Linked DNA regions of Homo sapiens. The protein of the gene in region 4 purifies or fractionates together with the protein of the main gene of each other region. This does not show direct contact. Each region holds a gene or a part of one and is shown on either strand. Other genes may lie near its edges.

Region 1 (7,025 bases), on a different chromosome or scaffold from region 4:
ATTTCAAATATTTTATTGGTGGGAAAAGGTAACCCCACTAATAATTATTCAATCCAGAGTAATATAGTCCATAATACATCATATAGTCCATAAATCCATATAGTCATTATCTATTGCAGTCATTTTTCAAACTAAAGATAGCTATAAGTATGTGCTATCATTTCTGATTTCAAGTATATATATATATATATATATATACTTTCAAGTATATATATATATACACACTCTATTCCTAATCAACACAGGTATATTTTGATACCGTATATATGGTATCAAAATATACCTGTGTTGATTAGGAATAGGGTGTATGGACATAGCTTTGCTTGTTAAACCAACAAGATAGAATTATGTCTTTTATCAATTTTAATTCTAAGAAGTTCCTGTTTCCAGTTTATGTAATAATTTATATCTTGGCCCCTAAATGCTCTTTATAAATACATTTCAGAATTTTATCAGCATTTTCTTTCTAGTTCTTGTTGTTGGAACATCAGTCTTCTTAATAATAGTCCCAGGTGGCCGGGCGCAGTGGCTCACGCCTGTAATCCCAGCACTTTGGGAGGTGAAGGCGGGCGGATCACAAGGTTGGGAGATCGAGACCGTCCTGGCAGTGAAACCCCGTCTCTACTAAAAATATAAAAAAAATCAGCCGGGCGTGGTGGTGGGCACCTGTACTCCCAGCTACTGGGGAGGCTGAGGCAGGAGAATGGCCTGAGCCCGGGAGTTGTAGCTTGCAGTGAGCTGAGGTCACGCCACTGCACTCCAGCCTGGGCGACAGAGCGAGACTCTGTCTCAAAAAAAAAAATAGTCCCAAGTGCTTTCAATAAGTTATGGTCAAATTAGTTATGAAAACTAGCTTCCAGATAGTACAATGCAGAGAAAAAACATATATACAGGAGTGTTTTTATTTTACTCATTACCATAATGTAATTATCAGTTGTAAACTGAAAGTCTGCTGAGAGTCTGTTCCTGCGTCGTATTCCCGGTTTTCCAGGGCCATTACAGATTACCACAAACTTTGTGGCCTAAAACAATGTAGACTTGTGTTGCTGTCATTCTGTAGCTTAGAAGCCCAACCCCTGTGTCTCACAGGGCTTAAGTCATGCGATCAGTAGGGCTGCATTGCCTTCTGCAGCTCGAGGGAAGAACCTGTTTTCCTTCCTTTCCTGGTTTTTAGAGGCTGCCCACATTCTTTGGCTCTTGGTTTCTTCCATCTCAGAGACAGCAACACAGTGTTTCATTGACCACCCTTCTGTCAGCAGAGCTCCCCCCAGCCGTAACTGGGAACGCCTCTGTGCAGAAAAGTTACCCTTATGATTACACTGGGCCCACCCAGGTAATCCAGGGAAATCCCTCATCTCAATTTCCTTATCTGAACCGCGTCAACAAAGTCCCTTTTGCCATGTATAGTGACATATTCACAGGCTCCTGGGATTAGGACGTGGACTATTTGAGGGCCAGCCTTCTGCCTACCACATGCGTACATATTTACCTTGGCATAGTTATTTTAAAACAATCTGATACACAAATGAAAAGGGAATTTACACAGGAAACAGACGGACAGAGTCTCCTCCTATACTCGTACATTAGCTCACCAGCGATTAGTCCATCTGCAAACAGACGAGAAATTTGCAGGGAAAGCAATCAGAACAGGGACAAAAACATTCTTGTTTTAGATTGCATATGTTTCTCCTTCAATTTCTTTTTTTTGGGGGACAATGTGTGAGTGATTAAGCAGCCGGAAGAGTGGCGAACCACAGACTGTAGTCTTGGAATGTCGAGTCTTGCCTGTAAGATGTTAAAATAAGAATCGTTTTGGCCTGGCATGATGCATAATTGTAATTGTGAAAAAATTTAAAGCTAAAAGTTTTTTTGTTTAAATTCCAATAAAATATGTTTACGTTATTCCTTTGATTAATAATAACAAATATATAGCTCGATTAAAAAAGTCTCTGAGACACACAGCTAACAGTGAGGAGACCACGCATCATTATGTGGTTGTATTAAAGCACTCATCGGTTGGAATCTGAGGTAGAAATGGTATAATACAAAACTTTATTTCATGCACTGTTTTCTAACTAACTGAAGATGTTCCTAATTGACTGCTTTTGTACCTTTTTGCAAGCTTCCATAGTGACCGTAATGCACCTTGTCAATGCTGTGGTTGACACGGTGAGCACAGAAGGTACAGTTGTAAGTGCTCGTGCTTGTGTCTGTGTCTTGCAGCAGCCGTGTCGTAGAGCTCGGCCGCATTGCTATTGCAATGGTAGGAAAAAACAGTTTGTGGTTTTGAGGGGGTTGAGTCCTTTTATTTTATGCAGGTGTGTATATACGTAATATGAGTGCTTTGCAAAAAATATCTCAATGTATGTTATGTCTTTGTTCCTTTTTACCATTCATAGTGATTTACATGAGATCTGGAGAGCTTATCTGTAGGTGGTGCAATCAAGAAAAAGTTCAGAAGTAATTTTACCTAAAATTTTTTTGAAACAAAAATTCTTCTTCGTATGTACAGGAATAAGACTTGAATAATGTAAAGCTTTCATAATTAACCTGTAACTGACTCTTCACTTTTGGTTTTTCCCTGAGTATGATCAAAGAAAAGGGTGTAGAGCATGGTAAAAGAATATTTTCATATTTGGTTTAGTGAAAATTATTTAATGTGAAGCTTTATCTGCTCAGAGTTGTAAGAAAGGACATTGAGCACCTTCCCCAAATTATTTTAAATTAAAATAGCCCTTTATTAGTGCACTGAAATTCATCACATGGGGAAGACACAGGCTAGTACTTTTCAAACTGTAATGTGAATCAGATCATCTGGAGGGCTGTTAAAAGCCCAATTGCTGGTTCTCAGCACCAGCATTTCTGATCCAACAGGTCTGGGTTGGGACTTTAGAATTTGCATTTTTCACCAGTTCCCAGGTAGCTCTGATGGTGCCGGTCTAGAGATCCCACTCGAGAACTGCTTACAGAGGCCATCGAGTACACAGACGTCATCATAGAGTTCGGGGGATCCTTTATGCTAGGACATGATGCTGTCAAGGTTCAGGAGGAGGGAGGATAGCTCTGGGCCCCATTTGCTATCAGGCAGAAGAGGCTTAGATACTCCAGTGTTCATGGTTATAGTTACTGATGACGCCTACACTTCTTTTCCTAAGAAGTACCATGTTTTCACTGGGCAAATCAGAAACATACCTGTATTTTGTCTAGTGAAGTTTTAGTGTTAAACTGATGACCTTCAGCATTTTAAATATTATTGAAGCTTATAGAAGCAGAATTTCAACAGTTCCTTCATTGCAGTCTCCTTCATTGACAAATATTTTTTGGCATATCCAAGAAGTGCACATGGAATTTAAAGTTGAAAGCTATTACTAGTGCCTACGTAACAAAAGTTGTTGATCTTTTTTTGTTTAAAGGAATTGCTGCTTTTGTTACTAGACTTAAAAATGATTCTGTAGATACATGTTACCTAAATGCCGGCGTATTCATGTTTTAGAGACACCACAGTCTTTTAAAATTACTGAAATTTCTAGAAGTGAACTATCAATCAAATATTTGTCCCAAATTATAACACTGTTGAATGCATAGAAAGCCTTGTTTAAAAAATCACGGATGTGACCGTTTTTCTGCTGTGATGTCTACTTTCACAGTTATTGATAGTTTCTAACAGTGCTTAACCTGCATGATCCTGTTTAATCCTCATAACAACTCTAACGGATTTTCACCCCATTTCAAAGAGAGAACCTGAAGGTTAGCCAGGGCCTGGGCAGGCGTCTCATGGCCCTAACTGATAGTGGGATTTACATGCGTTTGGTTACACTTCCTGCTGGGCTTCTGTGTATAGATGCGGGGCCCTGGCAGGGCAAGTGTAATTACAGACATGGGGTAAGTGTAGCCGTGGTCTCTTTAGGGAATGGCTCACAGTGTCAATATTAAAGCATATTCAAAATACATACAGTTTGGAGAGATCTTCAGCTTGTACATCTGTCTTTAAGTATCTAAGTTTGCCTATGAATTCCTCTGAATTTAATGTCCTTTGAAGTTGCAGTGTGCTATAAAGTGTGTGCATTATGTAGCTGTAGATGTATTTGGATTATCACCTATGTAATCTGATCAGTTTATATTTTATTAGAGCCTGTTTGTTTTGTTTTCATTATTCCTAAGGAAATTCTGTGTTTTCAGGCTGTGATTGTCAGAAACAAGGAAAAGAAAGTAATATTTGAGTTTTCTGGCCAAATTTCTGGTTCCTCATTCCGCAGTCACTTTCCTCCACTTCCATATTCCATTTTATTTGTGGTACATACATTTCTCAGCCATTTGGAATTGTCATAGATACTGGCGTAAGGACATGCTGTATGGCTGATTGGGCCTCTGTAAGCAGTTTTCATTGTTCTGTGTACTTACCTTTATTGCCTTTTCAGCCGACTGTTTTAATTACAAATGTTTTCTTTTTTTTCTACTCTGCCACCAAAAGAATCTTTGGCTGCTCCTGACCTCAGCAAACCAAGAGGTGACTTATGCATGCCAGTTATTCATTGATACTCACTAAAAACAATGGGTCAAGCCTTGCCCCAGTGCTGACTGACTACGCTGGGTCGCCCAGTGTTTGCAGCAGTAACTAAGTACACGGCTGCATGTGTGTGCGCATTGCATTTGAAGCACGGATTGCCTAACCTTCTCCCGCCTCTCCAAGGATTTTTTAAATCCTAAGGAGGAAAAAAAAAAAACTATTCCAAAATTGGAAGTTTTTTTTTAAAATAGTGGTGCTTTATATAGTCTAAAAGGATCACAGTCCTTTTGGAAGTAACACAGATTGATTGTTACAGTGTATCAGAGGCTGTGTTATAATCTTGCAACGCTTGTTCAATTGTATTTTGCTTGAATTGGCATGCTTTGATACATACCTATATTAAGTTAATTTGTTGTCTGAGGGTTAATGAAAAATAGTAATTTTAATATTAAACTTGCTACATTATTATGAAGGAAGCTTATTTTCTAAACTTTAGCATGTTAAAGGTTACTTTTATTACTTTAAAAAGTTGCATTGGCTGGGCCTGATGGCTCACACCTGTAATCCCAGCACTTCGGGAAGCTGAATTGGCAAGATTGTTTGTGGCCAGGAGTTTAAGACCAGCCTGGGCAACATAGTGAGACCCTGTCTCTATAAAAAATAGAAATGCAAAATTTTTTTAAGTTGCATTAATCAGTATTTTTTTAATGAGAAGTAGTGCAGATCAAGTGACACTGGATATTTCACTAATGTCCTGAGACTGGATCAGTACTCTTCTTCCTACAGAGCAGTGGGTTCTACAGAAGAAAAGCCAGAAGGATGGTTAGAATCATTTGTAGAAAAATGTATATAATTTAGATGCTAGCATCCCATTTCTCTTAGGACTCCTTTTGTTTCCTTGAATGTTAGTTGCGTACATAAAACTGTAAGTCCACATTTTAGAACTAGAGCCTAGTTCATAGGGGTCTTTAAACTGGAGTGGGTTGGGGGATGTCTTCAAAGCAAAGACGAGGAATTTCCAGTGGTGAACTTTGAATGAAGGCATAAATGCGGTTGCATCTTTGTGTCTTTGATACACTGAGCTCTCTTTCCATGGCACAAAAGCTTAGGAGAAAACACACTGACATCTGTTTTCTTTTCCACCAAGGGTATCACTGGGATACATCAGATTGGATGCCAAGCGTTCCTCTGCCGGACATACAAGAGTTCCCCAACTATGAGGTGATTGATGAGCAGACACCCCTGTACTCAGCAGATCCAAACGCCATCGATACGGACTATTACCCTGGAGGCTACGACATCGAAAGTGATTTTCCTCCACCCCCAGAAGACTTCCCCGCAGCTGATGAGCTACCACCGTTACCGCCCGAATTCAGCAATCAGTTTGAATCCATCCACCCTCCTAGAGACATGCCTGCCGCGGGTAGCTTGGGTTCTTCATCAAGAAACCGGCAGAGGTTCAACTTGAATCAGTATTTGCCCAATTTTTATCCCCTCGATATGTCTGAACCTCAAACAAAAGGCACTGGTGAGAATAGTACTTGTAGAGAACCCCATGCCCCTTACCCGCCAGGGTATCAAAGACACTTCGAGGCGCCCGCTGTCGAGAGCATGCCCATGTCTGTGTACGCCTCCACCGCCTCCTGCTCTGACGTGTCAGCCTGCTGCGAAGTGGAGTCCGAGGTCATGATGAGTGACTATGAGAGCGGGGACGACGGCCACTTCGAAGAGGTGACGATCCCGCCCCTGGATTCCCAGCAGCACACGGAAGTCTGACTCTCAACTCCCCCCAAAGTGCCTGACTTTAGTGAACCTAGAGGTGATGTGAGTAATCCGCGCTGTTCTTTGCAGCAGTGCTTCCAAGCTTTTTTTGGTGAGCCGAATGGGCATGGCTGCGCTGGATCCTGCGCCTCTGGACGTGCTAGCCATTTCCAGTGTCCCAACTACTGTCATCGTGAGGTTTTCATCGGCTGTGCCATTTCCCAACGTCTTTTGGGATTTACATCTGTCTGTGTTAAAATAATCAAACGAAAAATCAGTCCTGTGTTGTCAGCATGATTCATGTATTTATATAGATTTGATTATTTTAATTTTCCTGTCTCTTTTTTTTGTAAATTTTATGTACAGATTTGATTTTTCATAGTTTTAACTAGATTTCCAAGATATTTTGTGCATTTGTTTCAACTGAATTTTGGTGGTGTCAGTGCCATTATCTAGCACCCTGATTTTTTTTTTTTTACTATAACCAGGGTTTCATTCTGTCTTTTTCCACTGAAGTGTGACATTTTGTTAGTACATTTCAGTGTAGTCATTCATTTCTAGCTGTACATAGGATGAAGGAGAGATCAGATACATGAACATGTCTTACATGGGTTGCTGTATTTAGAATTATAAACATTTTTCATTATTGGAAAGTGTAACGGGGACCTTCTGCATACCTGTTTAGAACCAAAACCACCATGACACAGTTTTTATAGTGTCTGTATATTTGTGATGCAATGGTCTTGTAAAGGTTTTT
Region 2 (7,025 bases), on a different chromosome or scaffold from region 4:
AAAACGAGGCAAGGCCACAAAGTAGAAAGGTTGGGTGAGGTTCTTTTTGTTTTTTTTGAGACAGAGTCTTGTTCTGACACCCAGGCTAGAGTGCAGGGGTGAGGCTCTTAAACTGGCTGTGAATGCAGATCAAAAGAAATTCATTCCAAACATGTTTTCATTAGTGCCAGATGGATGACTCTTACAGAGAATTGGATTTCTAATCAAATTTCTCTGACCAAACTCTTTATCAGCACCAACCAGATAAGAGAGCATTGAATGAGAATCAGGGGTAGAATTGGGGGGAAAATCCTTCTGGGATGCTGGAAAGGTAGGCAAAGAGATAACTGTTCAGAGACTCTTGGATACTGATCCTGCTTTCTGTCTGTGGATGAGGTTGTGGACTGAAACTGAGTTCGATTCAAGAAATGGGAGAGCCCAATTTTTGTAAATATTCCTTTAAGTGATCCCATGCAGATTATTCCTGAGTTCCTCAGGAAGAGTAGGTCTGTGGGAAACAAGACACTCAAACTCTAAGTGGTTTTTTGTTTTGTTTTGTTTTTTTGTTGAGATGGTCTCACTCTGCTTTTGCCCAGGCTGGAGTGCAGTGGTGCAATCATGGCTCACTGTAGCCTCCACCCCACAGGCTCAAGCCTTCCTCCCACCTCAACTTCCTGAGTACCTGGGTCTATAGCTGCATACCACCATGCCTGGCTCATTTTTGTATTTTTTTTCTGGAGACAGGGTTTTGCCATGTTGCCCAGGCTGGTCTTGAACACCTGGTCTGAAGCAGTCTACCCTCCTCAGCTTCCCAAAGTGTTGGGATTACAGGCATGAGCCACCGCACCTGGCCTAAAAGTGCTTTGTTAATTCCCTCACTCCACAACAACAATCCACACAGAAGACTTCTGTGACCAAATATATGGGAAACTTCCCCCACACACCAAGCAAGCAATCACTTCTGCAGTGGACACCATGCGAGTGCCCTCCAATTTAAGTCTGACACTATCTACCTGCAGATTGCATCAGATTCCATAGGTTGAGAACTCAGTTCCACAAAGCTGCCTTCCCTCTTTAGACAGCAGTCGCAAGTCTGGGCCTCTAGAACTTCTGACTGACCAGCTTCAAGCTGGGGTTCCCATGACCCCTTCTTTGGGTTTAATTTGCTGGAATGGCTCACAGAACTCAAGGAAACATTCTAACTGCTGTATTACAGAGGATGTTTTAAAAGACACAAATAAACAGCCGTATGAAGAGATATATGGGGTGAAGTCTGGAAGGGTCCTGAGTGCAGGAACTTTATCCCTGTGAGGCTGGGGTGTGCCACCCTCCAGGCATGTAGATGAATACTTGTTCCTCTTTCTGTCAGCCTTCACATGGTCAGCTATGTGGAAGTTCTTTGAACTCTGTCCTCTTGGGCGTTATAGGGAGACTTCATTGGACAGCCATGATTGATAACCATGTAGAAATGTGATTGGACAAAGCGGGTATGATCTAATACCATTAGACTGAGTGGGGAAACACAGCAAGGCCTGTCCATTCAGCTTCTTGGCCTCTCTGTGAAGCATTTCCTCCTCCAGGGTATGAGGCAGGACACCTTCTGAATGAGTGTCTTATGACCCACAATCGGATTAGAGACCTGCCTTGGGCTGGTGAAAGGAGGGAAGGAGATCAGAGAGATAGATTCTGTTTTCTGAGGCCTGCTTTTGAGTCCTAAAGCTTCTCAACATTATAACAAGAGTCTGTAACAAGGGCTATGGTAGTTGTGAGCTAGGAACCTGTATTAGTCTGTTCTCATGCTGCTGATGAAGACATACCTGAGACTGGTAATTTGTAAAGAAAAAGAGGTTTAATGGACTCACAGTTCCACATGGCTGGGAAGACCTCACAATCATGGCAGAAGACGAAGGAAGAGCAAAGGGACTTCTTACATGGCAGTGGGTAAGAGAGGACTTGTGCAGGAAACTCCTTCTTTATAAAACGATCAGATCTCGTGAGACTTATTCACTATCACAAGAACAGCATAGGAAAGACCTGCCCCCATGGTTCAGTTACCTCCTACCAGGTCCCTCCTACAACACATGGGAATTGTGGGAGCTACAATTCAAGATGAGATTTGGGTAGGGGCACAGCCAAACCATATCTAACTGTAGAAGAAAAATTATATATGTATATATAATAATATTACAGTAGGAAAACCCAAGTACCAGAGCTTGGCTGTTTTCTAAACCCTGGCAGGATCCTGCCTGCCTGAGGAGGATCACCAGCTCCTTGTACTTATTAGACAAAAAGGTTATCCGGGAGAAGCTGTGACAAGTTTTCTATATCTGCTTCTGCTCTGGGGGCCTCACAGCCCCATGTTGATTGGCTCAATAAATCCACTGCTTCTAGTGCGTGCAGTAGGGGAGGTATTTGTTATCTCTTATCACCCGAAATGGTTATATATTAAAGCAATCAATAGCTACCTAGAATCTATAAGTTATTATATACAGTCATGCACCGTATAACATTTCAGTCAACAACACAGTTCATATATGATGGTGGTCCCATGAGATTATAATACTGTATTTTCACTGTCCCATTTCTATGATTAGAATTACCTACAGTATTCAGCACAGCAATATGCTGTACAGGTTAGTAGCCTGGAGCAACAGGCTATACCATATAGTCTAGGTGTGTAGTAGGCTATACCATCTTGGTTTGTTTAAGTACACTCTATGATCACACAATGATGAAATTGCCTAACAGCATGGTTCGTTAATGCCTGCCCTGGTTCGTTAGTGCCTGCCCAGATGTTGTGAGGGTGACATGACATAATGTCCAGAGTGCTCAGAGCGCTTCACAAACATGGGTGCCCTCCACTGTTGACTCTCCCTCACATGCTCACTCCCTTAGAACCCCGATGAGCCACAAACAGCTGGGCCATTGGACAGTGCCTCTCTGACTACTTGACCTTGCCGTCTCCTGACACTCTTGATTATTTTCAGAGTACGGAGGAAAGTGGAAAATGCTTCATTACTTTGCTCAGAATTTCTTTGCTCCACTGTTGCCAGTAGGCTTTGAGAATGAAAACACGTTCTATATCTATGGTGTGTCAGATCTTCACTCGGATTATTCGATGACACTCAGTGTAAGTTACTTGGATTGTTTTCTAAGATCGAAGGAGACTTTTAGATGATTTCTTTAGTTGTTTGGTTACATTCTTTTGGGAAAATAAAAGAGAAATTAATTTAGAGTTAGAATACATATATTCAGGCTACAACCCTGCCATTAATCATGTGACCATAAGCAAAACCCTTCACATCTTGTTGATTCAATTTCTTCTCAGTAAAATGATACCAGTCTCTCTTCTTACAGGATTTCTATGAGTAGGAAATAAAATAACTAGATGAAAGCAAATCACATATGCTATAATGTGCCCCTTAAATGCAAGGTTATTTATAATTGTGAGAGGCTGGAAATAGTCCAAACTTTATAAAAAGAAATGGTTAAAAATGGCATGTTATAGTGAAAATCAGTAAAACTATTCAGAATGCGCATGTGGAAAGCAAATTTGTTTTAAAAAACAAATTTAAGTAAAAAGAAAGGCTAGAAACTCAAAGTCTTAGGTGGCTATAGTTTGGAGGACACTAATAACACTGAAAATAGGTCACATTTACAGAAAAATTACAACGCACCAGGTACTGTGCCTTCCGTGGATTATTTTTTAAATTCTCACAACAGCCTGTGACATTACTGCTGTTATTTTCATTCTACATATGAAGAAATGAAGACTGAGAAGTTACTTAGTCACATAGCTAGTATTTTGCAGGACTGGGATTAAAACTCAGGTTTCATAGTCTCTTAACCATTTCTGCTAACCTGACTTTCAGCAATTATTACTACTATTGTTCCTTAAAAACATAGCAACCAAGAATGCCTGTTTTTATTCTGTTTTATTTCTCCCCAGGTGAGAGTCCATACATGGAGCTCCCTGGAGCCCGTGTGCTCTCGTGTGACTGAACGTTTTGTGATGAAAGGAGGAGAGGCTGTCTGCCTTTATGAGGAGCCAGTGTCTGAATTGCTGAGGAGATGTGGGAATTGCACACGGGAAAGCTGTGTGGTTTCCTTTTACCTTTCAGCTGACCATGAACTCCTGAGCCCGACCAACTACCACTTCTTGTCCTCACCGAAGGAGGCCGTGGGGCTCTGCAAGGCGCAGATCACTGTAAGCACAGGTCATGGCGGAGGGCAGGGGACTGTGGCCTTGTGGGGTTCTCCTGCTCTTGGGCCAGCTCCTTGCATCCTGAGATTTGCATGTGTCCCCCTTGGTGCTGAGTTTACCTGAGGCCTGGGGGAAGATTGGCCTCTTCCCACTAAAAGCAAACACCAAATGATTTCTATTTCGAATCCAGGATTTGTCAGAGTTGCTGGTGACCACTACTCGTTTGTCCCATCACCCCTCCTTAGTGGGCAGGTGCAGTGATGGGAGAGGAAGCTCGAGTCATCACCACTGCCTGCATGCCCACTAGGTTCCAGGCTGTGTTCTAGGTGCTTCACCTCATAGTCTCTGACTTTCACCACAGCTCCAGGCATTATCATCTGCATTTTGTAAGTTTGGAAGCCAGTTTAGGAGGTTAAGTGATGAGCTCGAGGTCCTGTAGCTGGGAAGCATTGGAGCCCAGCTGACGCAGTCTAATTTTAAGTAGAGTCTATTAATATTCACTCTAGTCTCTTTGATTTATTGCTTCAAAGTAGCTCAATCACCAAATCTTTTTATAATTGCCAAGATATAAAAATGGGATGATCAGGATGTGTTGTTATAAAAATTGTGCAGCTGGAGAATTTGGAATTTGTCTAGTAGGTTGAAAACCTTTCCTTCCTTCTCCCCTACACATAGCAGTTGGAAATATATGTACACATATATGTTTTTAATTTTATTATCTTATCTTCTGGACACTCAGGAAATATCTTTCTAGAAAGTTACATTCTCTGTTTTTAGAAAATTTTAAATTTGTTTTACACTTTTACTTCATAGAAAGGGATTTTCTACATTTAATTTAGAAATAATCATATAAAAACACCTAATTCTTGTGTTTTATTTGAAAGAGCCTAACAACTGAAAACATACCTTCTTTCTATAGTCACATAATAAAATCCAAGTTATCTGTAACAACTAATAGAGAACAGAAGAAAATGACAGTCTTACATATATTTTTTTCCAAAAAAGAAAAAAAAAACCACTATGTACTGGATGAATTTTCAGTCTCTAAACTTATGATTTTGAAAACCAAATTTTTTTCTTTCCTGAGTTAGGCCTTCATTACCTTGAGGTGGGTAATTGGGGTGGGAGAAAAGCAGGGCTCTTTCTTTGTTCTATCTCATTTTGATTTCAGTGAGACTTGTCCTTCTTAAAGAGATAAAATGATAGTAATAATACTGTTAGTTAATGTTTAATTCGGGGCTAATATAGACTAGGTATTTGGCTTCTTTTCTCAAGGGAGATGCCAGAAACTTGTTCTCCCTGTCTCCCTGAAGCCAGGGTGCAAGCTTGAATCCCAGGCTCTGCAGTCAGACATACAGAGAGGAGATTTCCAATCCAACGAAGATAACCAGCATAAGCATGACACCAGCATCTCTTTCGGCCTTGGTCTTGGAGCAGCAGAAGCTGATGCTACCCTGGCAGCTTCCTGGGCAGGCTGGCATGAGCCGCATGAACCTTGTTCCTGTGGCTGCTTTAGGACCTTCACTGGAACAGCTGGGCGGTGCGATCTGGGAATTTGCCATCCAAATTCAAGCCTGAGTCTCTGATCCTGAAGAGCAACCTGATACGCTTTATTAAGCTTCTTTTCTGCTTCTATCAATATAGGTTTCCTTGTGTATAACTCAGAACCCTGAATGATAACATATTACACAAATATGTAAGGCTAAATTATATATAGTGAAAATGGCCCTTTGAAATTCTTTATGTCACACATAACATATAATGTAAGACTGAGATGTTGCATGACAAATGCACAGATTAAGAAACCAGGTTGCACTCAGCTCCGTGCTCACACAAAGAGAGGTTTGCAAACCCTCCCACTCTGGGGAGCAGCGCATCCTCACTCTGGGCATATGCTATTCGGCTACTTAAGAGGAATGGAGCCAACACGATTTAAATTGCACTGTCTCTTTTTGCTGCTATTTTGTGGAATTCACACATGTAAAAAAAATGCTAATAATGTGACTTTACTTAACTATGCAGTAAAAGAGATAAGCTCTAATGGTAGAGCTTTTGTAAATTTCTGGCAGTGGACTTTCTAGATTGCTGGATCTTTTCAGGAGACTTGAATGTAAGCTCCACAGTTGGGCTCTGTAGCTAGGTCCAGATATATCCTTAGAAAGTCATTAAAACCACCCAGGCTGTATGTAAAAATGTTGCTCTCTTGATGATACTCTGAGAAAAACTGTAAAAGATGTAAAGCTTTGAGCTTCTTGTGAAATATTCTCCTTAATGATTGGAGACGATGTATTTCCTTGATTTGTGATTATAATTTGGTAACGTTCCATAGCCTGTAGTCATTTTCCATGTATTGTTTTGTGTTTGAAACTGCACTTTAGCAGTTGTAGAACCAAAGTTGTGGGAAGTGGACTCCTTGTTAAGCCCACATAAATGTTTACAGGAACTGTATACAGACTATATAACTCTTCCCTCATCCTTCACTTCATTCATTTTTTTTTTTCTTTTTCAGGCCATCATCTCTCAGCAAGGTGACATATTTGTTTTTGACCTGGAGACCTCAGCTGTCGCTCCCTTTGTTTGGTTGGATGTAGGAAGCATCCCAGGGAGATTTAGTGACAATGGTTTCCTCATGACTGAGAAGACACGAACTATATTATTTTACCCTTGGGAGCCCACCAGCAAGAATGAGTTGGAGCAATCTTTTCATGTGACCTCCTTAACAGATATTTACTGAAGGAATCTAGGTTGTATTTTCAGTGGACAATGGGAATAAAGCATTTCTAAAGCACCGACTGGAGAGGAAGGCAACAGAGACAAGGAGAGAAGCCGAGAGACATGTCTG
Region 3 (7,602 bases), on a different chromosome or scaffold from region 4:
AATTCCTGTGAGGTGGGCACTATCATAATGTCCATTTTATAGACAGGGAATCCGAGGCTCAGAGGTTAAAATGCCTGAGGACACAGCTAATAAGTGGTGTTCAGAAAAGTGCTATTTTATCTTTTGCGATTTGCAGATTAAATGATACAGATCAAAATGATAAATGAGCATGCTTTGACCCAGCAATTTCACCTACAAAAGTTTTTATTCATGCTTTGACACAGCAGTTTCACCTACAAAAGTTTATTCCGGGGAAATAAATTGGGTAAGTACATAAAGGGCTTTTATAAGGACATTTAGTGTTGTATTGTTTACAATGGCAAAAAATTGGAAACAATCTAAACGTTCTTCAAAAGGGGATTGGCGAAATAGACATATCAATACAATGTTAACCAGAGCAGCTCTTAAAAATAATGACATAGATCAATATGATTTGGCTTGGAAACTTGTGGCTTGCCTATAGCACAGTATATTGTTCAGAGCGGGAGGCAAGTTATAAAATAGCATGTAAGTTATAATCCCATTTTTGTAAAAGGAATTATCTTTAAGCAGGGGAAAATCTCTGAATGTATATGCTGTGGTTATCCTTGCAGAGGGGCTAGATTATAACAGAGCCAATCAGTTTATATTTCTGTATTATTTGAATATTCTTTTTTGGAATAACTATTTGAAGCAGAAAAAAGGCAATAAATATTGTCGCATGCTGGAATGCACAAAGCAGAACAAATGCACTACGACTGCAAGAACACTCCCAGGGCAACTGAAAGAAGATCAGAGAAGGCACGTACAGGAGAAAGATGTGATAGAAGACTCAACACACAGAGTAGGGTTATGCAGAAGAAAGACAGTGAGAAGCAGAGGAAAGGGAGATGGGAGGGAGAAAGAGTAAAAAGAGCAAAGCAGATGAGCAGGAAAGCAGATGAGCAGGAAAGCAGAGCAAAGGCAGACTGTTGAATCTGTAGAGGAGTTGTAATAAAGGTCAGCAGAGCCCTGGTGGCATCAGGGAATGTGCAACTGGGGCCTTGGTAAGGACAGTTAAGATAGTTAACTGTAGGCAGATAGATGATAGATAGATAGATAGATAGATAGATAGATAGATAGATAGATAGATAACTAAGGACAGTTAAGCTAGATAAGAGCATGGGTGCTAGGGTAAAGCAGTACAGTTAGTGCTCACTAAATAGATATGTCTTCCCCTATGTGTCCTATCCTCCCTTGTAAGTAGATAGGGGTCACAATACTCATTCTTGTCATTGAACTGTGACAGGAAGGGCTGAGGCCCTTAAAGTTTGCAATGCCTCTTTCATTACCCCATGCAGAAGCCATGGGTGTCATATGTTTCATGATGGCCTGACTAGAAGGAGTCACCAATTCCCAGGGGCCAAGATGTGATCATGAAATAAACTCTTTTTGTGTTAAGATACTGTGATTTGGGAGTTTGCCTGTTATGAGAGCTAGAATTTCTTGCTCTGATATGCGTTGTCAGGTACTAGCTGTCTGACTTTGGATAGATTACTTAACTCTCTGAACATCTGTTATTTCACCTGTCAATGGAAATAATAATAGCACCTATCTCACGTGGTTATTGGAGGATTACATGAGAAAGTGTACAGTGTTAGGCACAAAATATTCAATATGTGTTATCATTGTTATTATTATCGTTTACAGCAGGAGTTGATAAATAAATTCCCCAAAATGGGCAGCAACAAGGACAGGGAGTTGTGAAGAGATGACAGCAGGGCTGATCCAAGGAGATATTGTGGAACATATTAACAAAAGTTGTGGAATCTGGACTTGTAACTAAAGAGGACTGAAGATATAGACCCAAATATCTCTGGCTAGTGAATTGCCAACTTCCTATGAGGAAGCATGAAGCTGTCATTTGTGGAGGTTAACTTATAGAGATAAGCTAGTTATGATTAGGTGCATCTCCATAAACATGCTTACTAAATTTTCATCATAATGAAATATGTTAGGTTTATATAATCTCTTTTTCCAACATTTCAGTTGAAGTGAACATAGGTGTTAGATATGCCTAATATTACAGAAATATTGGTTGACCCTTTGCTCTTCCAAGTGATCTTAGGGCAAGGACTCAGGCTGCCTTCTCCCTTGACTACTTAGGGCAGAGGGAGGACTATGTGAGTGGGCCAGCATGTGCCCCTGTGGTGGACTGGTGGTCAAGGGGGGATGTTATATATAAATCCAATAAATACAGCATATGATTAATTCAGGGTAACTTGGTAGTGCTATTCTCCCTTTATTTATTGCTTTTCCTTTTTGAAAAGTAGCATATTTGCAATTAGCAAGTATAACAGATATCTTATTGAGACCTGTGCCATAATTGTATGATTTTTGGAGTGCAGTGATTATTTATAGGCGTAATCAGGGTGGACCATGGCCTCCAACTTCCAAGCTCAAGTGATCCTCCCGCCTCAGCCTCTGGAGTAGCTGAGACTACAGGTGCACCCCACTGCACCCAGCTTGATTTTTAAAATAAAATCAAATTGTTGATTTTTGAGAGAACAAACGGTTTAAGTTACTCCCATTCAGTAGCAGCTGCAAAATTAGGAGGGGGTTTAAGGGTGACCGTCTGGTTGTCAGAGTGTGTTGGAAGCTGAGTTTGAATTTGCACATCACTTTACATGGATTGAGAAGATGTCCTCCACCCCCCCGCCCCGCCCGACCTTTATTTTTGAGACAGAGTCTCGCTGTGTCACCCAGGCTGGAGTGCAGTGGTGAGATCTCTGCTCACTGCAACCTCTGCCTCCCGGGTTCAAGTGATTCTCGTGCCTCAGCCTTCAGAGTACCTGGGATTAAAGGCATGTGCCACCACACGTGGCTAATTTTTGTATTTTTAGTGGAAATGGGGTTTCACCATGTTGGCCAGGCTGGTCTCGAACTCCTGACGTCGTGATCTGCCTGCCTTGGCCTCCCAAAGTGCTGGGATTACAGGCGTGAGCCACCGCACAGGCCCTACTTTCTAAATAAAAAGGGAGGGGTCTTTTTTTGGGAGGAGGTTAAGGCCCGCAGCTCCCCTTGATATGGCCGCTGCTCTCAGGCACTTAATCCATTATTTCAACAAATGTTTAAAGAGCACCTACTATGTGCTTCAATTATACAAAGATGATACAACCTCTGTCCCTAGAATGACCACAGCCCAACAGAGAGACTGAGGGCGAAATGTGCAAACCCTGGGTCCTCCAAATACTTAAGATTCAGAGCCAGGTTGTCAGAGGTTCTCCTTTGTTCTGGCTGAATAGTAACACTGACAGGGACCTGCCAGTTTCAAGTTATTCCAGTTATTCGGAAAAGTGAATTGTTCCAAGTGGCGTCAGTGCACGTTAGAACGTGGGCCCGCGTCATGGTGTTCGTGAAGACTGGAAACAAGTGGGACCCCCGCCAGCACAGCTCATGCAACTGCTTCCCCTCCAACAGTTTCGCCCATCCCGACTCAATTGAGGGACCCGAGACGTTTCTTCTCTGGGCCAATCAGAACCCAGTCAGCATCTCTCTGATGCAACTGTTCCCTTATAAAACGATTAAACGTGGACCAGCTATTTTTATTCGGTCCTATAAAAATAGCTGCCGTCAGTCAGTCCTGGCGGGGAATCAAGGCCTCTGCTCTTCAAGTGCGCGCCCCAGTCGGCCGTGTCCTGATGTTACTTTCCCAGCCATTGGCATCTGGGGGCGCAGCTGGACCCACAGCTCCCAGACCGCGTTGTGTTCCACTGACAGAGTCTCCTAGGGAAAGGGAAAGGTGCATTTGCTCTCAGGCTCCGCCTAGGACACACACACCAAGATCTTCCCGGGCTGCTGGTAAAAGCCAGGATGCAACAGCCTGAGGGTCCCAGAGCGAGGAAGAAGGATCAATCAGGTCCCCCGGACGCACTTAGTTCAGCAGGAGTGGCGGGCTGTGGGGGTGGGAGGTAGCCCCAGGGCCTTTGATGTGGGCACACGCTCCCCCAGCCCGCCGAATCGGTTCCTCCCCTAACAAGGGATGTGGACACGGTTCATCTGCCTTCCGGTGTGCCTGAGCAAGAACTGTGCAACCTATCTCCACCCCCTCCGTCCCCGGTATGAGCACTTTTGATTCCTCCCCAGACAAAGCCAATCTGAACTCCAGCAGAATGAATAAAGGGATCAGGTTGCTCTCCCGGCCTCCCCTCACCTCCCTCCTCGCTTCTCCCTTTCCCCACGTGACTCTCTGGAATTTCGCCAAAGCTCCGAGTCTCTGGGTCCATTTTCACACCGAGCAAAGCAGAGAGGAAGGAGGCAAGGGAGACTAGAGGAAGGCTGAACGTGTGTCCTTTAAACACGGGGTCCAGACCCGGCGTATTTTGGGCGTTTCCAGGCTCTCTCGCCAGAGTGGCCTTGAGTTTGGGGGTCTTTTCCAGCCTCGCTAGCTTTTTCCTCCGTGCAATTAAAATTATGGCTCTTCTTCCACTCCCGTAATCATTGCACCTCTACCCTGCAGACCTCCTCCGGGGTGTTCAGCGCGGAGGTGGGTGTTGGTGTGCAGCAAGCCGCGTCCCCGCAGCCCTCCTCACCCAGGCGAGGGGCGGGGACGAGAAAGTAGCAGCAGCGCCCCCCAGTCTTTCCTCTGAAGCTTCCGAACAGTCTGCTTCAGGGAGCGCAGCCTGAGGCGGTGTGGTGCGGTGCGGCTGCAGGGCGGGCGAGTCCCCGGAGCTGCCCTCAGCGCTGCACAGTTTCCAGCGAGCGGACCCCGGCAGATGAGGTCTGCCGAGCCGGGTGGCTCGACCAAGGAGTGGGTGTGGGTGGGTCTTTCGGGGCTCCCGGCGACCCGCGGTGCCGACGCAACGCCGACGTATGGTGCCAAGCGAACTTTAAAAAGCTGCTTCGGACAAACCAGAGCCAGGATTTCCACTGTCGGGGACCCGGGATCGGAAGGGTCTAGCCCGAGGGAAATGCTGGAAGATCCCATCGGCCAGTGACCAGCAACTTTCCGGCGAGATTTTGACGCGGAGAACTGTGCTCTGCCTCCTCTTATTCTCCCAAAGCTCACGTTGGCGTCCTGCCTTGCGGGGGAACTCGGCGCGCTCTCTGCCTGAGCAGCGAGTGAATTGAACCCCAGCCCGCTCCGGCGCCTCCGGGCTGATGAGTGTCGCTCTCCGCCCGTCCATCTCTTTTTCCCGGAGGTAAAGGCCCGCGGTCCCCCACCTTCAGTGCGCCCGGGTTCCAAGCGCCGGAGCCAGCGTTTTGGCGGAGCCGCTTCTTGGATGCTGAAGGCTGGGCTCCTCCATCGTGGGTGCCGAGGCGGCGATGGGTGTCCTCAAAGTGTGGCTCGGGCTGGCCCTAGCGTTGGCGGAATTTGCAGTATTGCCTCATCATTCCGAAGGTGAGAGAGCGGTGCCGCGTGTGTGTGTGTGTGTGCGTGTGCGTGTGTGTGTGTATGTGTGAGTGATCGTGCAGTTTAAAAATCTCAGCAGGTTTTATGGTATTTCGGTGAGGTGGAAGTTTTTCTGGGAAGGGTGAGGTGGAAGTGAAACTGGAATAGGCTTTTTCTGATAAGATTCCTACTCCTGATTGTTTTGTATTCGGATTACACCCCCGAAACGGCCTCCCTCTCTGCCCTAAGTGCTTTTGGGTGGGTGGGTGGCCGATGGAGGTGACATCTCTGAAACTGATCCTTTTTCTTTCCACCACCTACCTTTCCCCGAAGGGAAAGCAACTGCATGGAGCACAGGTGAGGAGCGAACAATTGCTCTTACCTGTTTAAAAATACTTCTGTTCCTAAGAAACATACAGTCTTTCATCTTAAAGCCCCATCGCTCTCCCGCCCTCCTTACCTCAGTTAGTCTCCCCCTAAAGTCCAGTTAGGATTTTATAACTAACTGGTTGGAGCGTGTTCTGGTCGTGGGCAGTTCAGTTGCACTGAAAGAAATCTCTCCAGTACGGAGAAGCACGAACCAGCCTGCTTCCCAGAACAAAAGTGGTTAATAAGAGTTTAGGTTCATTCTTTTACTTCACCCTCCGCCTCCTGGTTTTCCTCCGAGGCTCCAAGCTACCTGTAAAACCCCGGAGCCGCAGGAGAGAAAAGGAAGCCGTGAGACTAGTTGTCGCCATGATATCAAATGCAATCCGGGCTCAGCCAAATAAATGAGTCAATAAGTAAATCAAGAGTTTGGGGTCATGGGATGCCGGGCCTGGGGACGCGAGGCGCTGTGAGCTCCCTCCTGCTCCGAGGAGCCAGGGAAGTCGCCCCGCCAGTGCTTAGGGAGGGGGAAGGGAGCCGGCGGGCTGGGAGGAAGACGGCTTAATCCACAGCGCCTGGCTCTCGGCTTCCCCTCCCGGCTCCATTCATTATTCATCCAGCTGCGGGAAGAAGAGTTCACCTGCCCAGCCGCAAACCAGAGCCGCGGCTGGGCGGCGGCGGCGGGCGCAGGGCGGGCCGCCTTCTCCGCCCTGGTGCCTAGGAAGGGGCGCGGGGCGGCTCCCGGGAGTCGAGCTCTGGCGCAGGACTGGGGGCTGCGGGAGGCCCGGGGAGGACAAAGCTCTGCCTCGGGTCGACCTCCAGTCACTGGAGCAGCTGCCTTTTCTTTGCTGGCTTCCCAAGAGAAAGGCCTTGGGAATCCACGCACAAGGGTGGGGGACTTTCCCGTGGGTCCAGGTGCTGCCTTCTGCACTCTTCCGGGATGTGTGTCAAGTGTGTATAATCTCCGCGAAAGGCACATCTGGGGCCTGTGCAGCCTTCTCCCAACAGTGCAAGTCCTGTAGAAATATAACTTTATTGTTTATGTGCGTGTGGGCGCGTACTTTGGAAAAAAAAAAAAAAAGCTTGTAGGGCTTGATTATAACAATAAACCAGATGAGAGAGTCACCCCAGGCCACCCAAACCTGAACTTGGTACTTAGAAAAATTAATTTCACTTGGTGGCAGTTTTTAAAATTTAGAGTCCTATCCCAGCAACGCAGGAAACGTGCTATCACTCCCGGATAGCTCACCAGGGGGCAGTTGGAATGGTGCAGCTTGTCGGAACCAAAACTCTGAAATCAACAAAAGGCATTATTATTAAGAGCCTGCAGGGTGCGCTCTTTGGCAGATTGCTTGATCCAGTGGGCCAAGTTTAAGAAGTGCGGAATCTAGACTGGGAGGTGGGGATGGGGGGATGTGAAGCACAGAAAGCTGGGGGTAGAGACGGGGGGCGGGGGCGGGGGCGGAGAGAGGGTGTGGATATTACTCCAAAGAGTCTTTGGAAACTTTGCTTCTTATTGTTTGACTTTACTGTCAGAGCATTCTATAGCTGTTTCACAAATTGGATTGATAAATTGATAGATGTCTGAGTTTCCACCCACGTCATAATGGTGCTTATCTAATAATGAATGAATGAATGAATGAACATGGCCATTTATTGAGCAGGTATTGTTTGCCTGGCTCTTTGCTAAGCACTTTACATACTTTATCTCATTTAATTAGTTTAATTAAGTGATATCACTCCCACAGACAAAAAAACATTTGTCATCTGATGAGACCTCTGGTTTGGTCCTCTCAAGGTTTTCTTTTTCTTTAAAAAATAAGAGCATTGAGATCAAGGTTGGAAACCTCAAGGATCTTAGAAATCTCCTCAAGTTTTTATTATCA
Region 4 (7,269 bases):
ACTACAGCAGAAACCATCCACATAAAGAGCTTTGCCCAAACTTATGATAAAGGGCACCCTCAGAGACTCTCCCTACTTTAATATTAGCCCATTGCAGAAATGGTGAGTGGAAAGAGAAATCTTAGGAAGAACCCCTTAAAAAAGCAAAATGTTTTTAGGTTTGTGCTGAAGAGCCTGGAAAAGAAATAAGGACACACACGCTGAGAAATCTTCCTCCTGCCCCAACACTGGGAATAATCTCCAAGGATCTCTACATATCTCATTCTCCTGGATACACTGTCCACTCAGAAATATTGTGCAGAGTGCAGTAATTCAAAAGTGAGCTATTGTGTTAGGAGTGAAGGCAAGAGTATCGTAAAATAAATCAATTTGAAAGTAATTCTCTTAAATTGCTTTATAGATGTTTAATGTAAGCCAGCAGCTATTAAACATAAACCTTAAATTCAGAAAAACTTGGTCATTCAGAAACTATAGAAACAGGCAGGACTTATTGCGAGGGCAAACACAGAGTGAGCTCCAGCCTGCTTCAGGAAAATCTGCCAGTGCCATGAAGGATGTACTCTGTCTGCTCCACTGCACTACTGCTCAGTATGAGCCCATGCCATCAGCTGTCCCTGACCCACAGGAGTTCTTTAGAAGAGACTGCAACAAAAGTTTCTAGGTGTTTTATACCTGCCAACTCGAGGGTTAAAACAAGTTGCATAGAAATGCTCAATCAAGAAAGACACAGTCATTACTCAGAGAATAATAAACAGCCTGGCAGCACATGAATGAATAGAAAAAAGATGTTACATGCAAAGCATGAAATAACCAAATTCCATAACAGATGTTAATCTGTAATGTGTTTAGGAGAATTTAGAGGAAGTATAAGATTTATTCTTTCATCAAAAAAATTATAGCCAATGAGGATATATCTATCAATTATCCATCAAGTGGTGATATGGCAGCACAAGGTAAAACACAAAGGAATAAAACCAACGTTTATTAAGAACCAATCATGTGGCATTTCACATTGAGCATCATATTTAATTCTGAAAAAAATCCTTGTACTGTATCATTCTTCATATTTTATGGATGCAGTAACTAAGGCTGAGAACTTTAAAATTTTTCCTAAGTTCAGACACATAGCTAAGTGGCAGAACCAAGATTCAAACTCACCCCATCTAACTGCAGAGCAAACTGCATGCCTTAAATGTCAAAGTGAATACTAGCACAGTTAATACAATGTTTGGAAACTCAGAGAAGGAATGATCCCTCTGCATTATAGTTACTAAGGAATCATTGCCATTATTTAAATGCCAGTGCTTCTACATCAGGCCCAAATTTTCTGTCCTACTAACTGTGAATCAAGACTTGATTCAACCTCTACTTGAGTATCTGCCGCAATGAGAAATCACTTACCTCCACTAACCACACATTTATTTTATAACAACAGATTGTTAGTAAGTCCTTTCTTATACATACTCAACAGCTGCTTCCCAAGATGCTGTAGGATTATGTCTAGAGTCAAACTAGCCAGAAGCAATGTCCAAAATACACCATAACACTGTGCAGCAAAGGTCCTACTACCACTTGTTTGGCCCAAACATTCTAGGCAGCACTGGATATCTGAATCATCAATTATTTCCACAAACCCTGACCCCTCTACCAGTCACCCTCACTAGAAGAATTAATTCCACATGATAATAGCTCCCTCATGTTACTCCCTTCTAAGTCAAATTGTACACCCCTTTATCTGATTAACAGAGTCTAAGTCACATGACCTAAATGCAAGAGAAACTGGGAATGGAAGTTTGTGGATTCTACCTTAGTAAGGCAAAGTTATCATTGGGAATTCCTCTAATACAGGAAGGGTGTTCCAGAGACATTAAGGAGCCATATAAATGGAAAATGTCCACTACAATCCATCACTTGGTTGCCCCACATCAACATTCATTCTTTTGCCACACTTAAAGTTTCCAAGAACAAAAATTATCCCACTGAACATAATCTTTACCATCTTTTATATAAAGGAAAATTAGACTTGACTCAGCAGAACTGAAATAACCCAGTCTCAACAGTTACTGCTTTTAACTTCAAGTACTGTGTCTCTAGGTGATACCTGCTCCAACAATAGTTTGGTCACATTTTCAATTTGATATTCTCTAGTCTCCCAACTTGATAACTGTACCCTAAACCATAAAGTTCACTACCAACATGCTATATATAAAATAACCAAAGGGGGAAGAAGAAAGAGAAAAAGGAAATCTCTTAAAATACACAGGTATACATATGACAAAGCAAAGAAGGAAATGTGAGCAGATAGCGCAGTCCTCGTTTCTGAAATTGGTCCCCTGACTGGGGCTATACCTATTCCATTTCCTCACCCTCAGCCAGGCAGGTGGAGCAAAACTTAAGTCTTGGTGGATCTGAATCTTGATGCTGTGGAGCTGTCTTACTAGCCCCAGACTACCTGCCTCTCAATTTCTAATTATATCAGTGAAAGCAAACAGCTTTGATTTGTTTAAGCCTCTGATTTTTTGGTCTAACTGATGTAAGACCACAAGACAAGAGTTCTCCAGCTCCGGATTCTCTTCTGTTCTGTTAATGGTGAAATGCCCAGAGAAGAGTTGCCAACTTTGGCAAATAAAAAATACAGGATTCCAGTTAAATTCAAATTTTAGATAAACAACAATTTTTTAGTATTAGTGTGTCCCATTCAATATTTGGACATACTTAACTAAAAAATGATTTGTTGTTCATCTGAAATACAAATTTAACTGGGCATTCTGAATATTCTCTGGCAACCCCCGAGAGAGTGAAGAAAGTGGTACAAGGACACTTAAGAAGACCAGATTTGAAAAGACATTACGGATGTGTTTAAATGTCTTATTCTAGAGAGAGTTAGAGCTGTAGGTAGAACTTGGGAAATTAAGTTAAAAGCAACAGAGGACCTGGCCAATATATACTAAGGAGTGGATCACTCTGGTCACAAGCCCAACCTGAGACCAAGGGCATAGTGAGATGATTTGGGAAAGGCACTTATACACTACTCATCCCCGTCTTTGAACTAAATGCCTTATAAATCTCCAAGAGAAATGACAGTCCACCATGTGGACTGCTTTCTGTAAGTCCAGGGAAAATAAAAGCTATGTGCTTGAAACCCACTTCTGATATTATAAGGTGTGTGATCTTTGTCATGTTAATGGGTCTGAGTATCAATTCTACAATTGTAAAGTGACAGTAATGGTGTGTCCCCAGGTTGTTGTGGAAAGCTTGATTCTTAATGCAACAGTAGGAAACCCCAACCTCTCTGGAGCAAACACCCTTCTACATCTTTACTTCCCCTGCACATTGGCAGGACTCTATTCCTCTATTTCTCTCTAGTGCTAGAGCAGAAAGGGACCTTGATTTGATATCAGGAAAATCTATTTCTGAACCATAAGCTATGATAGCTGATTTAAAAAATTGACTATCATGACATGATAATGATCATAATGGTAATACATATTGATAGGGTTGCCGTGAAAGTAATAATATATCTAAGAGTTGTGACAATATATGATACACCTAGACTCTCAGAAAATGCTAATTCCAATCCCAATTGCTCTTTGCATAAAGTTCTGTCCTAGGGTCTGTTCTTTTCCCACATCTACCCTCCTTGGATCTCTCTTCTGTCAAAAACATGTGGTTCAGAGGAGGAGAGAGATCCAGGTCAATGTTTTTCAAATTACAAGGAATTATCATTTAAATGGGGTTGTTGCTCAAGTTTTGACGTGTAGTGGAATGGAGTGGAGTGGAGTGGAATGGAAACTAACAGAAAACACTGCACATGGTTAAGATAAAGATTGTTTCCTGAAACCTTTAATTTGTGCTTACATACTCACACATACATATGTGCATGCACTGGGACTCTGCAATATGCATTTCTGACTATGGAACATAGCCATAAAAGTCTTTGCACTGAACGTTCAGTGGGCCTTTCACAAGCTGCCCTAATTGGGAAAGAAAAACATGGTCCCTCCATTTCCTGCCCCCAACTCCAGAAAAGTCACCATAGTTGAGGGTACATCTGAGAAGCCAGCACTTGGGAGTTCAGGGCTCAAGTTCCTTTCTAGAAAAACACTGGGTGATTCTAGGGGAACTTCTGATCAGAAACAGCCAATTCAGAGTGAGAGAAGAAAACGTGACCATGCAGTTCCTGTGGTTACCAGCCTTGCCCCTCTCTTGCCTTCTGGGAGTTATAAAACCCAAGACTGGAAAGGAAAACCAGCATTTGCTCAGGCAGCCTCTCTGGGAAGATGCTGCTTCTTCCTCTCCCCCTGCTGCTCTTTCTCTTGTGCTCCAGAGCTGAAGCTGGTGAGTATCAGGGTTCTTCCCTCTGAAATCTGCAGTATCAGCTCCTGAAACAAAGATGTTTAGTCTGAAAATAGCTGACTCCTAAACAGGGTTCCAAGATCTCTCTTCAAGAGTCCCAGAGGGAAATTTCCACTTGGGATGTGTGCCACCCCACCCCCACCCCCACCCACTGCCATTCTCTACAGCCTAGGACAGCCCCCAGGAACAAGGAATTTCACCTCAATTGTAGAAAAGCCCAGAGCAAGTGGAAGGAAAAGGGGTATCCCCAGGAAAACAGACATGTCCTCTTAATCTTCTGAGCATCAGGGCTACCCATTACTTTGTGACTTTCTCACTCTGTGACCATGCTCAAGAGCTATGGAGAAATCTAAAACAGGAACCTGGACAGTGGGTCCTACACAGAGACAGAGGAGGGTGGGCCAGGGCAAGGTGGGAGTGGGAGAAGTCTGAGATGAAAACATCAGAATGGAGCAGAGGCAAGAATGAGATTTCACCTGGGAGGTTATGGGTGGGGAAAGATACGAAATACAGGAGACAGGAGAGGGAAGATGGGCGGAACACAGGGTGAGAATGAGATTCCAGGGAAGCCTAGCTCAGCTTTAACCCAATTTGTCCATTCATTGGAGAGAGTATCTATGGCCGTGTTCAAACCCTGGGGTGCTCTGTTCCAGGGGAGATCATCGGGGGCACAGAATGCAAGCCACATTCCCGCCCCTACATGGCCTACCTGGAAATTGTAACTTCCAACGGTCCCTCAAAATTTTGTGGTGGTTTCCTTATAAGACGGAACTTTGTGCTGACGGCTGCTCATTGTGCAGGAAGGTGAGACAACAGGGTCTATTTATCTCCAAATGGGAGATGAACAACCAGAGTAGCATCCAGGAATACACCTGCACTGGGGACTGAAGAGGGGGTCCTGGGTCTTGTCAACTTTCAGGAGAGGGAAGACTTGGGCTGAAAGACTTTAGTCTGTGTTTGAATAGTTCCTTGAGCCTCAGTCACTGTGAGCTAAGCTCCCCTTCGGAGGAAAAGGAGGTCCTGTCCAAGGTCCCTCTTGTTGCAGTAGCACCCCTCACCCCTACCCAACTCAAGACACACGGCTCACTTTTCAGGGCCCCACCCAGTCTCAGGGCCACTTCCTCTATGGCCTTTTCAAGAACACTGGCCTCTAGTTCTCAGGGTCCTGAACCCATCATTTTATGGGAGGCAGAGAACAGGGTCTACATGAGACCCCCACTTTCCCGTTTAACTGATATCTCCTGCTTCAGGGGCTGGCCCTCATGCAGGGTTCCCTGAATTAGGAAGTGTGAACCCTGTCCCCTGAGTCCTCCCTGGCCTGTTCAGTCCCCAGCAATTCCAGGGGTCGTAGAAATTGTGTCTGTTTCCTGAGAAAGCTCTTTCATGAGTTAAGCCTGAGCCCTCAAATGCCACAAGTGGCCCATGAAAAGGGAGATGGGTAGAGTCCGGCGACCCAGTGACAGAGTTTAGTCCTCTTTTCTCAGAATGAGCTCACCTCAGAAGAAACCCCAAGCCATCACTGTCGCTCCTTTTCCTTCCTTCTTCCTCACAACAGGTCTATAACAGTCACCCTTGGAGCCCATAACATAACAGAGGAAGAAGACACATGGCAGAAGCTTGAGGTTATAAAGCAATTCCGTCATCCAAAATATAACACTTCTACTCTTCACCACGATATCATGTTACTAAAGGTGACAACACCTCTCTTCTCCCTTTCCACTTCCCATTCTCCTAAGCTTCTCCTTCAGGTCCTCATTGCCCTGAATTTTTCTTAGGACTTGGCTATAACATGAAGCTACTCACCCTGTCCCTCCCTGATCACCTCCAACTGTCCAGAGCCCATTTCGAGGACTGACAGTCCTTCATTCCCTTCACAGTTGAAGGAGAAAGCCAGCCTGACCCTGGCTGTGGGGACACTCCCCTTCCCATCCCAATTCAACTTTGTCCCACCTGGGAGAATGTGCCGGGTGGCTGGCTGGGGAAGAACAGGTGTGTTGAAGCCGGGCTCAGACACTCTGCAAGAGGTGAAGCTGAGACTCATGGATCCCCAGGCCTGCAGCCACTTCAGAGACTTTGACCACAATCTTCAGCTGTGTGTGGGCAATCCCAGGAAGACAAAATCTGCATTTAAGGTGATCCTCCAACTAGGTTTCCTCTCCAAAACTCACTGTTCAGGGACCAGAATGCTCTTAGAAGGAGATGGGGTCAGAAGGTTGTCAGTCAGTGACAGGGTGAGCATCACAGGAATTGCTGTCCTCCCGTGGTCCAAGACAGCCTCTGACCATCCATTCCAGTCTACTGCACTGGGGGCATGGGGTGATGTGGAGAATGTGGATGACGGTCCCAAGAAAGGAAGAAGGGGCATCAGAACTAGATGTATAAGTGAGGAGCTCCACCTCCTGCGTCTGACTTTAGGTCTCACTGTGACTCCAAGCTGGCTGGCAGACAGGAGTGGAGGACTTCCCGGGCTCACCTTCTTCTCTCTCTCCTCCCCCTACAGGGAGACTCTGGGGGCCCTCTTCTGTGTGCTGGGGTGGCCCAGGGCATCGTATCCTATGGACGGTCGGATGCAAAGCCCCCTGCTGTCTTCACCCGAATCTCCCATTACCGGCCCTGGATCAACCAGATCCTGCAGGCAAATTAATCCTGGATCCTGAGCCAGCCTGAAAGGGAAGCTGGAACTGGACCTGAGCAGCAAAGTGTGTGCCACTCATTCTGGTCTACCCTTGGTCCCTCAGCCACAACCCTAAGCCTCCAGAAGTATCCTACAGGTCACAGAACTCTCAATAAACCTCAGTGAAGACACAGCTTCTAGTCGTGAGTGTGTGTCCCCTCTCTGCTGCTCTCTTCTCCCTGCACATAGTGACCTGATTCCCAGCCCAAGCACCCAAGGATTTGGAAGGGGTTTGTGTG

What was found.
Region 1: the proteins of CMA1 (region 4) and FAT1 purify together in Homo sapiens (co-immunoprecipitation; 2 studies listed by BioGRID and IntAct, with this or other methods). This does not show direct contact.
Region 2: the proteins of CMA1 (region 4) and MANBA purify together in Homo sapiens (co-immunoprecipitation; 2 studies listed by BioGRID and IntAct, with this or other methods). This does not show direct contact.
Region 3: the proteins of CMA1 (region 4) and FRAS1 purify together in Homo sapiens (co-immunoprecipitation; 2 studies listed by BioGRID and IntAct, with this or other methods). This does not show direct contact.

What each region holds. Positions count from the first base shown.
Region 1 is NC_000004.12:186,587,850-186,594,874, reverse strand, and holds part of FAT1 (protocadherin Fat 1 isoform 1 precursor), read left to right. Parts: intron 1-4,471; coding exon of another isoform or gene 4,472-4,507; intron 4,508-5,654; coding exon 5,655-6,283; 3' UTR 6,284-7,025.
Region 2 is NC_000004.12:102,631,949-102,638,973, reverse strand, and holds part of MANBA (beta-mannosidase precursor), read left to right. Parts: intron 1-2,966; coding exon 2,967-3,109; intron 3,110-3,928; coding exon 3,929-4,186; intron 4,187-6,692; coding exon 6,693-6,917; 3' UTR 6,918-7,025.
Region 3 is NC_000004.12:78,052,727-78,060,328, forward strand, and holds the start of FRAS1 (extracellular matrix organizing protein FRAS1 isoform 1 precursor), read left to right. Parts: upstream 1-4,596; 5' UTR 4,597-5,283; coding exon 5,284-5,359; intron 5,360-7,602. UniProt on the Homo sapiens protein: Involved in extracellular matrix organization. Required for the regulation of epidermal-basement membrane adhesion responsible for proper organogenesis during embryonic development. Involved in brain organization and function.
Region 4 is NC_000014.9:24,505,247-24,512,515, reverse strand, and holds CMA1 (chymase isoform 1 preproprotein), read left to right. Parts: upstream 1-4,250; 5' UTR 4,251-4,280; coding exon 4,281-4,338; intron 4,339-5,009; coding exon 5,010-5,160; intron 5,161-5,911; coding exon 5,912-6,047; intron 6,048-6,233; coding exon 6,234-6,488; intron 6,489-6,856; coding exon 6,857-7,000; 3' UTR 7,001-7,163; downstream 7,164-7,269.